2 separate regions of the Homo sapiens genome follow, and region 2 is linked to region 1. The links come from fine-mapping of genetic effects on gene expression. Tissue or cell type: whole blood. Region 1 holds a variant in brackets; the other region holds the start of a gene. All regions are shown on one strand. Distances are from middle to middle.

Evidence for each region. PIP is the estimated chance that this variant, and not a neighbour inherited with it, causes the effect.
Region 2: it holds the start of LINC02937, and the variant in region 1 is fine-mapped to the expression of LINC02937 in whole blood (TOPMed, PIP above 0.99).

Annotation. Positions count from the first base shown.
Region 1 is chr9:91,155,383-91,159,766 of GRCh38, reverse strand. All of the region lies in intron 1 of LINC02937 (long intergenic non-protein coding RNA 2937), which reads left to right. The region is part of intron 2 of LINC00484 (long intergenic non-protein coding RNA 484); the gene reads right to left. Among named protein-coding and RNA genes, the nearest start is that of LINC02937, 5.7 kb to the left of the region's middle. The variant A/T (reference allele first, on the strand shown) is at 2,681.
Region 2 is chr9:91,161,205-91,165,588 of GRCh38, reverse strand. It overlaps LINC02937 (long intergenic non-protein coding RNA 2937), which reads left to right and starts at 2,309. Exons shown (of 6, transcript NR_184105.1): 1 at 2,309-2,584. All of the region lies in intron 2 of LINC00484 (long intergenic non-protein coding RNA 484), which reads right to left. RefSeq lists enhancers at 608-902, 2,300-2,349.

The sequences.
Region 1 (4,384 bases):
CTACGGAAATCCGGAGCTCAGCGAAGAGAATGGGGCCGCGTGACCATGACATTTACCCAAATGATCCTCAGCAGGCCTCGCCAATTCCTGGGGACACCAGTCTCTCATAGAGGATCTTTCTGTCTTCTCAGAGTCACTTTTACAAATGTTGCCACAGGGTTATATTGCTTAGCTTCCTTCCTTCCTTCCTTCCTCCCTCCCTCCTTCCCTCCCTCCTTCCTTCCCTCTTTCCCTCCTTCCGTTCCTCCCCTCTTTCCTCTCTTTCCTTCCTTCCCTCCCTTCCTCCCTCCTTCCCTCCTCTTTCTCTTTCCTCTCTCTCCTTCCTTCCTTCCTCCCTCCTTCGCTCCTCTTTCTCTCTTTCCTCTCTCCTCCCTCCCTCCCTCCTTCCCTCCTCTCTTTCTTTCCTTCCTTCCTTTTTTCCTTCTTTCCTCCCTCCCTCCCTTCTTCTTTCCCTCTCTTTCTCCCTTTTCTTTCTCTCCTTCCTTTCTTCCTCTCCCTTCCCCTGCCCCACCCCTTCCCCTTCCCTTTTATAGACAGGGTCTCATGCTGGTGCCCAGGCTGGAGTGCAGTGGGGCAATCATAGCTCACTGCAGCCTTGACCTCCTAGGCTCAAAGCGATTCCCCCCACCTAACACCCCCCACCAGGCCTCCCAAAGTGCTGGGATTACAAGCATGGGCCACCAACCATGCCCAGCCCACTTAACCATTTCTTACATATAACTTGTAACTGACCTAAGATAAATTACGTGAATGCTACTCTGGAGGGAGGAGAGGGTGTCAGTGGAAGTCGTATGACTTTTGCATATCTGTGCCATCAAATATAGGTAAAAGTATCAATGGTGCAATTCTGCTGTTAAAATAGCATCCTTGGCTCTAAATAAAAGGGCTGATATTTTAAGTTGATTCATATATTGTAAATTAATCCAACCTAATTTTTAAAAAATTGGGGGAATGTTTTTCTTGTTAAGTCATGTTATAGAAATAAAAACTGGAAATTCTTGGCTTAAAAAATAAATAAAATTGAAACAGATTCTTAAAATAATCCTCAGCTTAAGGTAAGCAATTTTGTCTGTGACATATCACGAGTTTGATAAACTGGAGATGTTCTATTAAAAATATTGAAATAGAAATGTCTGTGACTCATGCCTGGCGGCATCTTGTATGCTGCACTCCTTGGATTATGAGCCTAGCCTTTTGGAAATGGATGGACTTGGGCCTCAGGCACAGGGTTGCTCATTTCTAGCTGCAGCTTCTTAAGCTTGGAGATTGGTTCCTCCTCCGTAAAATGGGAATTCCTAAGCCTCGCTCATGGAACTGTGAACTTCTTGGAGAGGCCAGTGTAAAGGCCGTGGATGGCGCCAGCACACACTTGTCCTGTCATTCCTTATCCACACATGTCATTTCCTTTGTGTGATATGGAGGAGACAGGGCCCCCATTTACTGGGCTTTGTGTAAAATACCTGGTGAGAGTGTTTGAGAAAGATTACTTGATAATCACGCACAAGGATGGTATCAATGAGCTGGATGTTCCCTAAGATGTGACTTCAAGCATTCCTATCTTAGGATACATATTCAGTTTGCCAAGTGTCCTGTAGAAAATTGTGTGGAAGCTCCACAGCTGTCTCACCAGCCCAGGTAGAAGATAGCATTCTTTGGGCCCTTCCTACAAAGTGAGGTCCCTGGACTGGCAGCATTCTTGTCACCTGGGAGCTTGTCTGAAATGCAGGCTTTCAGGCTTGATCCTGTGTAACCATGACTATGGCCACTGGAAATGTGGTTAGTGCCACATGATGAAAGCATACTCTTTTGGGTATATTCGATTAAATAAAGTATCTTATTAATATTAATTTCACTTTTTTTTTAACTTAAAGTCTCTACCAGGAAATTTTAAACTTCATATGTGACTCCCATTATATTTCTTTATTTTTTGAGACAGGGTCTTGCTCTGTCACCCAGGCTGGAGTGCAGTGGTGCAATCTTAGCTCACTGCAGCCTTGACCTCCTGGGCTCCAGTGATCCTCCCACCTCACCCTCCCAAGTAGCTGGGACTTCAGGCGTGTGGTACCACACTCAGCTAATTTTTTTTTTTTTGCGATGGAGTCTCGCTCAGCTGCCCAGGCTGGAGTGCAGTGGTGTGATCTTGGCTCACTGCAACCACCGTCTCCCAGGTTCAAGCGATTCTCCTGCCTCAGCCTCCCATGTAGTTGGGATTACAGGCACCTATCATCATGCCTGGCAAATTTTTTTATTTTAGTAGAGACGTGGTTTCACCATGTTGGCCAGTCTGGTCTTGAACTCCTGATTTCAGGTGATCTGCCCTGATCGGTCAATTTTTTTAACTTTTATTTTTTTAATAGAGACAGGGTCTCACTATATTGCTTCAAGTGGTCTTGAACTCCTGGGCTCAAGTGATCCTCCTGCCTCAGCTTCCCAAAGTGTTGGGAGTACAGGAATGAGCCACCTTGCCTGGCCCCATCATATTTCTGTTGGACAGTGCTGCACTCAAATCCATGTTCTCAGAATCTGTATTTTAACTAGATCCCTGAGTGATCTCTGTGCTATTAAAGTTTGAGAAGCACTGCTCTCCGGTAACTACAGCCTGTGGGCCAAATCCGGCCCAACGCTTGTTTTTGTGAAGTGAATATTACTGGAACGCAGTCACACCCTTTGTTCACACACC[A/T]TCTGTGGCTCTTTGTGCTTCAGGGGTGGAGCCGAATAGTGGTGAGCTCACAGCAGAGCCTGAGAGGCCATCTAGCCCTTATAGATAGTTTCCTCAACCCTTGGCCTAGGCCTTGTTCCTGCCAGCATCTTATGGTGTGGTCACCAACCCTGATGTGCCTGTTCATGTCCTTGTCAGGAAAGTCCCTAGGCACAAGTGCCTGTGGTAGAAAATGCTTTTGGAGGCCTGCTTCTTTCCTGGAAGTCACAGAGGAGGCCGAGGATCCATGGGATGGAAAAGATTAAAAGATGATTTAAGATCAAAAGTCCCTAGTGATATTGGAAAGGCCCTTCGAGGCCACCTGACATTATCTTGCTTGTTGATGGGTGAAGCAAGACCCCAATAGGGGGTGGGTGGTGAGTCCTTTAGGTGCCGGGTGAAGGAGCCGGTGGAAACCTGGGTGAAGCCGGATGGGTGCCACCTCCAGTTGTTTTTGCAACAGGGTGTTTTCCCAGATTGTAGGTGTTGGTGGGATGGGAAGGCCCAGAAGTGAGTTGTGCAAACAATGCAGAATTTTGTCCCCTCAAATTAACACTTGGTTTTAGTTGCAATATTTAATTTACTGTGCAGTTTTCAAATAATATTAAAAGAAGGCATGGGATTTGTACATTAATCAGTGGGAAGCATAGAGTTAAAAAGACAAGACAAGACTAAGAAATGCTGCTCTATTTTTCTGCTACTCAAAGCGTGGTCCACAGACCAGAGGCATGAACATTGCCAGGAGATTGCTAGCAATGCAGAATTTCAGCCGGCCCCACTGAGTGAGAGTCTGTATCTTAACAAGGTCCCCAAGTGACTCGCAAGCACAGGAGCGTCGGAAACCCATCATTTCAGTTACTTTTAGGCTTTGGTGTGTCTTGAAATCGCTTGGGAGGTTTCAGAATTCTGAAGCCCAGGTCCCACTTCAGAGCTCTGCCTGGGGAGAGGCCAGGTGTGGAGCCATCTGAGGGTCTCCAGATGGTTTGAACGTGCAGTGGAGGGTGAGAGCCTCAGTCAACACTGGCCTTGTTTTTGCTCTGAGTTTCACAGCCCTGAGCCCCAGTGTGCCATGTTCCAGGTAGAGTCATCTAGGAATTTGCTCCTGAGTCAGGCTGCTGAAGCCCACTGTTTGTTCCCTCTCCCTGGAAGGGTGGAGATCCAGCCCTCTCTGGATTCTCTGAACCTCTGGTGAAACTTTTGGAAGGTGTGACAAGGATTCTGACTCCAACTTCCATGGCCAGGCACTTGCATGGCAGTGAAAGAGCAACAGGATTTGGTGCTTCCCCCACTGGGTGATGCAGGAATGTTCTGGATATCAAACAGGGAGTTAGCTTACTGAGACATGATTTTCAAATCCATGAGCAGTATGCTTTCTTTAAGAAACACTTGTATAAATTGCATTACTGTGAGGAATGGTTCTCAGCACTTTACAGATATTAGCTCATAAATAACATGACAGTCCTGTGAGGTGGCTTTACAGCTCCACCCACCGAGAAGTGGAGTCAGTGTTGGTCCCCTTGATTCTGGGCCTGACTTAGTGGCCTGTCCACCAAAGTTACGGTGGAGTGATGCTACGTAACTTTCAAGGCCAGGTCATGAAGAGGTGACAGCTTCCTGCTGGCTCTCTGGAATACTCCTGGGCCACCGTGGAAGCAGTCTGACTGCCCTGATCGAGCATGGCCACCA
Region 2 (4,384 bases), 5.8 kb before region 1:
TTTTTATTTTTTAGTTGTGGACAAGGTCTCCATTGTCTAAGCCACTGTGAGAATTCAGGTAAATCATGGCCCATCCTGGGACAGTTCCTCCACATTCTTGCTACTCAAAGTGTGCTTCATGGACTAGTGGCTTCAGCCTCACCCAGGAACGTGTTAGAAACACAGAATCGTGTCACCGCCCCAGACCTCCTGATGCAGAATCTTCATTTTAGTAAGCGACCCACTGCCCCCGCGCCCCCTGATGATTTGGGTGCTCATTAAAGTTTGAGAAGCACTGTTGGAGCTTGCCCTGAAGTTGTAGTGCGCTCTTACGGATTTCAAACCAAAAAGCATTACCTCTGTGAAGCCAGTCTGGAGCCTGGCTAGACCTTCTCCACCACCTCGGGGGCTTCTTATGTTCCAGAGTCTAACACTCTGGCCAGATACCAGGGACCTTTCACCCTCAGAACCTGTGCTCACATGTGGCAGTGAGCAGTGCCTGCACCTCAAGGCACCGCATCTTCCCAGCTACAGTGGGCCTGGCTGCTCCAGCTGCGCCCAACATGTGTTAGTAGGGGAATTAAATACCCCTCTCACTCCCAGTTTTGTGTATTTAAAAAATCCTCGGAAGAGAGTGGTATATGAGGTTTGAGGCTTATCAGCAGCTGCAGCAGCACAGGCCACGTCGTAGCTGTGAGTCATAGACAAGCATGCACACTGTGGCTGCCTGAGGCCTCTGAGCTGCCTTCCTCAGTCCTTCCCTCTGCAGGGCTTGGGCGTGGCGAGGCGGCTTCTTCAGCAAGTGCTGCGGTCAGCGTAGCGGGATTCAGAGTGCAGCTTGTCTGAGTGTCCTCTGCTTCAAGTTCACCTCGGCTGTCATCCCCCAGCAGACCACACATGCCCAGGGGAATGACCCTTTCTTACCACTGCGTCTTCAGACTGGGGTTGCTTTCTCTCCATCTCACCTTCTCCTGTACCACCTGAGGTACTAAATCTTCCAGGAAACCTTCCTTGAATGTCTTCTGACATCCCAGTGAGGGGCTCCTGATATTCACTTCCATAGTGCTTTGGTCACCTACTGCAGCATAAAACCACTCCAAATTGAATTGCTTTGCTCACAATTGCACAGGCCAGGGATTTGGGCAGGGCTTGGCTAGGCGCTTTTCACAAGGTGGGTCTCCTTTGTGGATGCTGTTTGATGCTGTCCTCTGAAGCCTCCACTGGAGGCTGGAGCTGCCTGTCCAAGCTGGTGGCCTGACACTGCTGCGGGGAGGCACAGGTGGCACTTTGATGAAAGCACCTACACGTAGCCTGTCTCTGTGGCTGGGGCTCTCTCACGGCGTGGTGCCTGGGCTCTGAGAGAGGGGGTCCTGAGAGCAAGTGCTCCAGGAGACACAGCCGAAGCCACGGAGCTCGCTGTGGCCTGGTCTGGAACTTTCACACACCACAAATGCTGCATTTCTGTTGGGTCAAATGTGTCACATAAGTCTGCACAGACTCGGAAGGAGGAGACTTACAGCACCATGCTGTGGCAGGGACAGCAAAGACTGTGTGGCCACGCTTCCTCTATCATGCGTGGCCAGGGTCTTCCCCACCACGACTCCTCCCCTAGGCTGTGCCATCTCACAGGGCTGCCTCCAAGCACATGCCTTCCCCAGCACCACACTCAGTGCTGGCCCTGTGAACACATCTGTGGGACTGATGGAGTAGAAACCTGCTTCAGCAAAAGTCGGGGAGTGGCAAACCTGGGAATGTAGAGAAGCACTCTGTGTGCAACACGTATTTCTTACGTACGCAATGATGGCTGAAGTCCATGCGGAGTTTATCACTACTGGTCAGTTTCAGAGTGTAGGTCAGAACCCGTGAGCCTTCCTTGCCAGAACAGTTTGGAGTGTCACACGAGGACTTCAGCCTGGACACCAGAACCAGGTGGGCAGTGGGGCCCATCACGTGCCACTGTAGTGTGAAGGGACAGGGTCTGCCTGCTGGTCTGCCCAGGGAGAAGATACTCCTAGCTCTTCAGGCTCCTACTCAATCCCCTGACAGCACCCCTTAGCGAAAAGGCACCACCCTCGGCGTCAAGCGCATCTCTGAATGAGGGTCATGGTGAGCTTGTGTTAGGAAAATAGCTCTCTTGCCAATACGCAGGCAAAGTAAGCTTCTGCAATTCTCAAAGTCCCGAGTTTGCAGAATTTTATTTACAGCAAAATGTTGGTTTACCCACAAACATCCTGCTTGGCTAAATATATCTCCTGCTCCTAGAACAGGACCTGTGGTTTTCAAGCATGGGTTTTGGCCTCCCTTCAGCATGCTGGCATGCATGTGCCCTGCTCTTTCTCCTGTGATCATCGGCATGATAGGAGGCGAGTGAGGAACTCAGTGTCTTCTGACACAGGCATCTCACAACACCAGTGCAGCCGGACCGTTGTCTGGTAGGTCTCTGTGCACCCAGGAGGACCTGGGCCTGCGAGAAGTCTGGGGCCCACTGCTGGGTATGCTCGTTTCTTGAGCATCCGAGTCACCTTTACAGTCTGCGATGATTGACGAGGTCAAACAGGACTCACTTGCATTGCCGGGTCTCTGTGGCGACAGGGAGGACTTGGAGGTAGGTGTTCAGGTCAGAAGGGACAGTCCTGACTTCCTCCACCGCTGTCTGCAGAAGCAGAGGCTGAAGCCACAGGCTGCGGGGGTGGGGAGCATGCTCCAGGAAGTGGCTCTCGGTGCTCCTGTCCACAGCCTCTGCAAGGAGAGGCACAGGCCCAGGCAAAGAACACAGTATGGCAAGTGAGGAGAAGGGGAAAAAATCAAATTACACGCTGTTTCTCCTTTGATAGTAGGAAGGCAGGAGGGAAGGGAGCTATGTAGACACAGGAGACGCTCCCAGTTCTGCTGGAGCTTAGGCTGGCCCTGGAGCTAAGCTTTAGCAATCTCCAAGGGAAAAGGATTGTTTAACAGAAAAATGGGGCCGAGGAAATACTGGACTTCAAATGAGAAGAAACTTTTTCAGAATCTTCGTGGCCTTGGGGCTGGTTGTCCTTCCCAGAACCATACTTTGTGGCAGTGGGGAAGTCATCTCTGATCTGAATCCTCCCCGGCCAGGATGTCAAATGGTCATTTACAGAGAATTAGTAACTGACAGGGAGAGGAGAGAACACCCTTCTTTGCCTGTGAGTGATGGCTGAGTCACACGCAGTGTGCGGTGATGGGCAACCATTATTTTTTGTTTGCTGAAATAATTTCATGGTGCAGATTGGTAGGGAGAGTTCATTTTTGAGAAAAGTCAGTTTCCTGTATTTGAGCAAAGAAACCACAAATCATTCTTTAACATTAGTAAATTTCTGTAAAGCACGAGTTGTCCTAAGTGAGGTGCGAGTGACACGAATCTTTTCCTCAGGCACAGAACTGTCATTCCTGCACTCTTGCGAGCCAAGGGTTAAATATTCAGGAATGTTCTGCCACCTGTTCTCAGGCAGCAATTTGAGCCTGGGAGGCCGCCCAGACAAGGACATGACAGCCCCCTCATGCCCCTTGCAGTTCTGAATGCCTCTCATCAATCCCGGGGTCTTGGGGGAATGGCAGAAGGATCCCCATCACAGTGGGGTCTCCCTTTTCACTTATAAATGCGGCGGGGCTGTGCTGTGCCTTCCGAGTGAGGAAGGGCTCTCTTCAGCCCACTTCACAGAAGCCTCCCTGGCAATCCAAGACCCCTAGTCCAGCTGCAGATGGCAAAGGAGACCCAAAGCACAGGAAAAAAACGCTATGGATAACCCTCAACAGCACTGCAGTGGTCTGAGGCTACTTGAGGCTAAGGGTGCAGAAGACCAGCCCAGGCACAGGTGTCAGGGAAGGCCCTGTCCTCAAGCGTTGGGAAGGAGGTGCTCTTCCAATCAGCCTCTGTCCCCCAACTGAGGGAAAGAGTCCGGCCAGGGGCCACCTGGGACCACCCAAGCCCACTGCATCTTCTCCTCCTTTTCCATCTGGTGACAGCTGCATTTCCGTGGGTGGCCAGGAGGAGAGTTTTTGATTCCCTTGCTGCCATGAAGACATGTGTGAAGAAAAGAAGCTGAGCTCACTCTGAGCCAGGTGTTAGAGGGCTATGGAATGAGGGGCTTTGGTGCTGGTGCTGCCTGGGGATGTTGAGTGTGTGATGGCTCCTAGGATCTGAGCAGGGCCAGGAGGACGCACAGGAGGGCCGGGGCGCCACCAAAGGCAGGGAGAAGCCCACGTGGACGTCATCAGATCCCCTCTTTGTTATTTAACTGAGACTCTAGTCCAAGAAGGACACCGTGTTGCGGGCCTTGAGAGACCCCTGGCATTGGCGCTCCAGCCAGGCCCCTCTGTCCTGTTGCTGTGTCTGCACTGCCCTGGCTTCCGTATGTTTTTGCTGTATGGCCAGGACCTGTGG